2 linked regions of the Homo sapiens genome follow. The protein of the gene in region 1 interacts with the protein of each later gene in a pairwise test. Each region holds a gene or a part of one and is shown in the gene's direction. Other genes may lie near its edges.

What was found.
Region 2: the proteins of KLC1 (region 1) and NIN interact in a two-hybrid assay, tested with the Homo sapiens proteins (one large-scale study listed by BioGRID).

The regions. Positions count from the first base shown.
Region 1 is NC_000014.9:103,656,437-103,660,258, forward strand, and holds part of KLC1 (kinesin light chain 1), read left to right. Parts: intron 1-1,109; coding exon 1,110-1,340; intron 1,341-3,822. UniProt on the Homo sapiens protein: Kinesin is a microtubule-associated force-producing protein that may play a role in organelle transport. The light chain may function in coupling of cargo to the heavy chain or in the modulation of its ATPase activity.
Region 2 is NC_000014.9:50,719,257-50,723,178, reverse strand, and holds the end of NIN (ninein), read left to right. Parts: 3' UTR 1-3,416; downstream 3,417-3,922. UniProt on the Homo sapiens protein: Centrosomal protein required in the positioning and anchorage of the microtubule minus-end in epithelial cells. May also act as a centrosome maturation factor.

The DNA.
Region 1 (3,822 bases):
TTCTGGCTCTGTCAGCATATCTTAGGTAAAATTAAATATACCAAAGCTTTGCTTCTTTCTTAGCATTCTCTAGTTTAGTGAGTGAATAGAGCAGAAGAGGGGCTGCTGGCCAGCGGTTTCTGCTTTCATAGAGGAAGTGACTGCCCACACCCTGATTTTAGAGTCTTCATCCTAACCATGTTACAGCCTTGAGTTGCAGAACTGTAGCTCTGTTTGGATATTGTGAACGTATTATTTCTCAAGTTCTGTTACCTTGAGAACAGGTGACATGAATTTAAACTTGCTTTTTTGGTGTCGCAGATAAGAGTTTTAAAAAAAGAAGGAAGAAAAGGTCCCACCTTCTGGAGTTTCAGGTTTTAAACCTAGGAGGATAATAACCTGGTTATTATGTTATGAGAGGGATGGGCAGATGTATGTTCTAAAGAGAGAACAGATTGCTGCCAGCCAGCTCCTAGCTGTTTGTGCTCTTATGCTCCTAGGAACTTGCCACAGCCTCACGCTGGTCTGTTCCAGAAACCAGTGAGCACTCTGTAGGCAGAGCCCTGGAGTGGCCCCTGGATTTTATGACATAAACATAAGCTTATGAGTGCACCAGTGCATTCTTACTCTTGGTGGTAGCTACAGAGATGTCTTCTCTCACCTTGGAACATCAAGGAAGATTTGTATGTGCACTGTTCTCTGACCCCCACTTGCAGCCCTTCACCAACATGCACTCTGTGCGCAGACATGCATGTGTGTACACGAGGTCTTACACATGGGAAAGGGTCTATAAAAAATTATGTTGGGCCCATCTTGATAGAAAGTAAAATAATACAGTTTCATCAGAAGGGTAGCTGTGTTTTCATTGCTAGTTCATTTGGCATGCTCTTCAAAAAAATAAGTATTTTTTTGTAGGCATTCTGAGCGTGTGATATTCTTTATCATACCCTGCTTTGTAGTCTGTGGCTGAAGGGGAAAAGAGAAGTAAATGGCAGATTGTACTTATATGTACTTTGGAGAAAATATCTGCGAGTGTAAGCTACAGCCCCAGCCACAGAATGTTCGCACGGGTGGGAGGGACTCTTGCTGGACAACGTGCCACAGTGCTGCACACGTTTCTGTCTGCTCAGGTTATGATGGCTTTGTCAAATCACCTGAATGCTGTGGAGTCCGAGAAGCAGAAACTGCGTGCGCAGGTTCGTCGTCTGTGCCAGGAGAATCAGTGGCTACGGGATGAACTGGCCAACACGCAGCAGAAACTGCAGAAGAGTGAGCAGTCTGTGGCTCAACTGGAGGAGGAGAAGAAGCATCTGGAGTTTATGAATCAGCTAAAAAAATATGATGACGACATTTCCCCATCCGTGAGTGGCTCTGTAGCAAATGTGGTGCTAATGTTTAAAATGGAGTCACTGGGAAAGTCATAGAGGTTCTGTTTGCCATATTCTTTTCATATTAGAACATATTAGAACATTAGAACATGCAAAAATGTTTTGTAAATATAAGCCACAATCCAGAGAGACACCATTACCTTCAACAAGGTCTGCCCCGAGGTCTGTCCCGAGGTCTGCCCCAGCTTAGGCTCTGGAGCTTCCTTGCCCCTCTGTAGCTTGGCTTCCATGCCATCAGCTGCTGGTCTAGCAGTGGTCCAATCTGGCCGTCTGAATTTGGACTCTGGGCAACCTCTCTGCCCCTTAGGGTGGGTGCTCTTGGCATTGCCATTCTCTTTGAAACTCCCCTGGCCCTCTGGACACCACCTGGCTCTCTTGCCGCCTCTCTCATCCTCCCCTTGGCTTCCCTTGCCAGCTTATCTTTCTGTATCTGCAGGGGAAGAAACGATCTTGGTTTTCTTCTTCTTCTTTTTTTTACAAGGAGTCTCGCTCTGTCACTCAGGCTGGAGTGCAATGGCACAATCTTGGCTTACTGCAACCTCCATCTCCCGGGTTCATGTGATTCTCCTGCCTCAGCCTCTGGAGTAGCTGGGATTACAGGTGTGTGACACCATGCCCAGCTAAGTTTTTTTTTTTTTTTTTTTTTTTTTTAGTAGAGATGAGGTTTCACTGTTTTGGCCAGGCTGGTCTTGAACTCCTGGCCTCAAGTGATCTGCCCACCTCAGCCTCCCAAAGTGCTGGTATTCCAGGTGGGAGCCACCATGCCCAGCCTTCTTTCTCTGTTGGCTCTATTTGGATGTTTATCCTAGTCTCAGTTATTTTTCATTCAACATTTATTTCTGATTCAGTTAACTTTTTTTTTTTTTTTTTTTGAGATGGAGTCTCACTCTGTCACCCAGGCTGGAGTGCAGTGGCACGATCTTGGCTCACTGCAACCTCCACCTCCCGGGCTCCAGCGATTCTCCTGCCTCAGCCTCCCGAGTAGCTGGGACTACAGGTGTGTGCCACCACGCCTGGCCAATTTTTTGTATTTTTAGTAGAGATAGGGTTTCATTGCGTTAGCCAGGATGGTCTTGATCTCCTGACCTTGTGATCTGCCTGCCTCGGCCTCCCAAAGTGCTGGGATTACAGGTGTGAGCCACTGCGCCCAGCCAGTTAACTTCTTTTTATTTTTTTTTTTACTTTTTTTTTGAGACGAAGTCTCGCTTTTGTACCCCAGGCTGGAGTGCAATGGCGCGATCTTGGCTCACTGCAGCCTCCACCTCCTGGGTTCAAGCGATTCTCCCTTCTCAGCCTTCCAAGTAGCTGGGATTACAGGTGCGTACCGCCACGACTGGCTAATTTTTGTATTTTAAGTAGAGATGGGGTTTCACCATGTTGGCCACTCCTGACCTCAGGTCATCCCCCCGCCTCGGCCTCCCAAAGTGCTGGGATTACAGGCGTGAGCCACCACGACCGGCTTCAGTTAACTTCTTTTTAAAGAAAATTTCTAAATTTTGGAATTATTTTATTTTACTTATTTTTAATTTTAAAAATTTTACCCTCCTCTCAAGTTTCCAATGGAATAATTTTAAATTGATTGAAAAGTTGAAAAGTTAGAGAAGAAAATTGATGTGCCCATAACCCAGTCTCCCCTGATCGTCCATAATCATAGAACAGTGGTCAGAACTAAGATATTAACATCAACACTTTACTGTTAACTGAAACACAGACTTGGTTGGATGTCACCAGGCCTTCCACTAGTATCTCTTTTCTGTGCTAGGACCTAGTCCAGTGTTCCACATTGCATTTGGAACTAACGTTTTTTAAATACCTGTATGATGCCAGACATGTTCATGTACATAATCAGAATACTAGAGAGGTGCACATTTGTGTGTCTCGTTCGAATCCCCATCCTAAGACTACTGAAACAGTTTTTTGCGTAGCACCAGCAAACCTGCATTTCCCCTCTGTCTTCATCTGCTTGGGCTACTGTAACAAATACCACGGGCTGGATGGCTTAACATTTATTTTCTCATAGTTCTGGAAGTCCGAGATCAGGGTACCAGCAGGGTCCGGTTCTGGGGAGGGCCTTCTTTCTGGCTTGCAGACTGCTGCCATCTCTTTGTGTTCTCATATGGTACAGAGAGAGAGGGAGTAAGCTCTCTGGTGTCTCTTTTTATGAGGGCACTAATCCCATCATGAGGGCCCCACACTTTCGAGCTCATCTTATCCTGATCACCTCCCAAAGGTTTCATCTCTAAATACCATTACACTGGGGGTTAGGGCTTTAACATAGGAATTTGGGGAGAACACAGTTTAGTTGACAGCATGCTATTTCAAAAGGCTTACCAAAATCCTCCCTCACATCTCCTCTAGGTTAGGGGCCAACTAAATGTTTTGATTTAAAAGATGTGGCTGGGCGCAGTGGCTCATGCCTGTAATCCCAGCCCTTAGGGAGGCCGAGGCAGGCAGA
Region 2 (3,922 bases), about 53 Mb from region 1:
TTTTGAATGAGTTTTTGTGGTTTTGGTTTTTTTTTTAATTATTACAAATCTATGTGTAAAATCTAGATATTTGAAGTTTGAGATCTGATGAGAATGGTTGTTATAAACTTTATTTTAAAACCAAATTTAGGTGTTCTTACATATTTAAATACTGGAAAGTCATTATAATAGTTTTGGTTCTTTGAATTGGTAGACAATTAGTAGAGTATAATTGGTTAGGAGGCAGGGCTTATTAAGTGGTTATTAACCGCTGACATCAGACAAACCCAAATCTGTAGAATTCTAACCTTCTAACACCTGTGACAGTATTACCACTCTTCTTGTATTATAGATTTAGAACTGATTTACTCAATTGCACTCTTAACTAATGTTAAAAGCTTACTTGCTTTAAACAGCCTTTTCTTCTTTCTCTTAAAAGTTTCATTTGGGGAGCTGGTCTTCTAAGAAACGGATAAAGCCACATAATTAAAGCAGTTGAACTATAGGGAAAGCACTGAACAAACCACTTTGGAGTAAATAGCTACTCTTAGAAAAGAGGGATAAGCAGACCATGTAGGTTTTCTGTCTCTCAAATCTTAGAGTTCATAAATTTACTTGAGGTTGCCTCAAGAACTCAGGGAACAATACTGTAAACTGTCTTCCTGAACTACTGTAGGGCCTCTCTAAGAATTTGAAATGTATAAACCATGTGACCTCATTTATTTGTCTTATATATTTACAGCCATACTAGAATTTTTATTTCTACGTTTTTAGTAAATTTAATATTCTGGGGGAAAAAAGGCCTTGATTTTAGGGTTAAAAACCTGACTTATAGAAGAGTTTATTTAATATAGGTCAAAATTTTCTGTGTTTCTTATTCCTTCTATACCTCAAATCTGATTCTAAGAATTTCTTACTGTGATAATCATTGGCATGCCACCTGAGGTCAAGGAGTGCCAAATAGGACTTTCCACTCATGCTCAAGATCAAAACTTTATAGAACAGTCAACATTTTAGATTCGGTAACCTTTTTTTTCTTCCAATTATAATCTCTGCTAGCCACTTCCGCCAGCAGTTGGTGGAAGACTTACTAGGTGCAGGGCACTTTCCAAGTTCATCACAACAACCTGCTTGTTTTCATGAGACAATAATCCGAAAAGTTCGCTTTGATATATTCCTGGAGGGCCAAGCCCATCTATTTACAAAAGGTGAACAGCAAAATCAAGCACTGCTTTATGGGCAGGAACACAAGAGAAAGCAAACTGCCCAAGAAGTCATCATGTCAGAAACTCAATCTCAACAAAATAATTTCCATCAGGGAACTTCAGGGTTTCTTGGGGGCTTATGAGTCTCACCGGTCAACCCAGGAGGCCTCACTACAAGAGCCTTGACAAGGCACTGTTTTTTGTGGGACTGGGAGTTCACACTGATGAAGCAAACCTTTGAATTTTTGCACAGCTCTTGTCAGAAAGCCCTGAGTTCCCCCTGGATAAAGAGTTAATTTTAATCCTTCCCTATAATTATACTTCAAAATATTTGACATCTGCTATTATGCCTTCTTTAGATCTTTCTTCTGTGGTGCAGACATTTCTAGTAAGTGTTTGACTACTTGTATGGCATTAGCTTTCACAGAAAATTGTTTCACTTAAAACTGTGGATTGGCCTAGGCTAAGGACAAAAATAAACTAAGTACCTGTAGTGTATTTATGTGATATGTGTCAAGTTACTCAAAGTTATTGCTGTTGGAACTGAACAATAATATTTCCCAGATAGCTGGCCTTAGCATGTGATCACGGTTGTTGTATTTTTAATTTTTGTCTTTTACAGTATGAGAGGTGTAGGTTAATTTGTTTATTTCCTATAAATTTGTATTTATGTGTATATAAAATGTACAATGAATGTAAATATGACTTTCTGGAAAGTTTAGACTACATTTAGAATCTCTATTCAAAATCAAAATGCTGCTCAAATGAATTTAACCAACATCTAGGTGCTTAATTTCTCATTTTATCCCACTTATGAGATTGGGAAAAAGATCAATATGAGAAATACCATACAGATACCTTAAATGTATGCATTTGTGCAACAATTTTTGAGAAGGTGAGTGGCAATTTATAATTTAGTTGGCAATTTATAATAGAACTTATAGCTTTTAAAAGACCTTTTAAAGACATTAAATGTAAACTTAAAAATGTTTAGATCTTGTTTCAAACTTTACAATAGCATTCTTCAAAATATTAAGTTATATATTTTATAGGCATTTAGTTGCTTATTAAAAGCACTGATTTTCAAACTTTTTGATTTAAGAACAATTATTTAAGATCGTCTCAGAAGATGGGATCTTCGTTTCAAGAAAAGGGAATCAAGTTTGCCTTTGAGATAATACGTTACACTAAGAAAAGGAAAATGTGGATAGTAAAACCCACCTCTCTCATCCTATTGTACTCTCTTCTGCTTTTTAGAAGCCTGCACTTAAGCTTAGATTTGTGAAGGGAGAGTAGAAGGGGAGAAGTAGAACCACAGTGTTTTATTTATTTTTCTAAAACTCTTACTAAATCCAGATTTTTTAAACTGTTTTAAATGTGAATTCTTCCCAGAAATTTCAATGCATTGCATATTTAGCCTTCGGCATATTTTTCATGAATAGATCATGAAGTCATAGGCTTCCAAGGCATAGGAAGAGATCTTGCAGGTCTAGTATTTTAATAATGCACTATTACCCAGGGCAGATATTATGAGAAACTGTTTCTTCTCTAAGGGTTTATGGCAGACTTTGCTTTTTTAACATGTGAGAAATGAATTTTTTATTTTGTGATTTATGTGATTTCTTTTGCTGAGTGAAGGAAAGGAGAAATTGTTGCTATTGTCAGCATCTTAAAGGTATTTCCAGTCAAGGCAAGGCTAAGTGCTTTGTGATAGTATTAAGCAAGTCATGTTTTGAATGGATTACCTGTAGTGACTCATTGGAATGATATAATTATACAAGTAATGCCAAAAACCAAGTCAAAGCCTAATTAACCAAAGCACTCATTTAAAAATCATCATGTTTGGACCTATCTGGACCTCTCAGCACTGTAAAATAGTTTTGGTTTTGTGGCATATGAATAGCTGTTTAACAAATCAAAGTTAGCTTTTTGCTTCTCAGCTTTTTTGGGCAATACAAGTTAAGTTCTTAATGGGGAGACATTATCATGGCATGACTTAAGGGAACATTGGTTTGTGAAGGAAAAACAGATTATCTAAAGCCATCTCTATGTTTCTGTTCAGATAAAGATTAATGAGTTCTGTGTTTATATCAGCTTTGTATATTTCATCTTAGCCATTCTATCCTAGAAAGATTTTAATGTGAGCTTAAGATGTAAATAAATAATTTTGCAAACATGCCTTTTGTTTTCTATATACCCTGACCTTTTAATAAAGTTTCAGTGTATTTATCATTGGTCTTTAGAATGGTAGCATCAAAATATTTCACTAAACACATTCTACAAATGCAGAATCTCAGCCCGCACTCCAGACCTACTAAATCAGAATCTTCATTTTAAAGAGATTCCCCAAGTGATTTGTATAGGATTTAGAGCATTGGGACTCCATTTCTATTATAGAAGGATGACTTTTACACCAGCCAGTTTGGGGTCCCCGTATACTGTGGCAGTGCATAGTTTACCTGCAGAATCATGACTTAACCTTGGGCAAGGCCCTGTTTGTGATTTTGGGTGCTTCAAAGATGGCTTTATTTCATGTTGCCATCTTTAGGGGTGGCTCAGACTTTCTTAATTGAGCAGCTCATGAATGATGAGATATATGCAGTTGGAAACACAAAAACAACCTAAAACCATGTTAATATGCTGAACACTGAAATGTAGAATTGGAAATGTTGGCCAAACTGACCCATCTCACAAGCCTGTTTTATTTCATTTCAAAGCTTTTATACCAACCTCATACT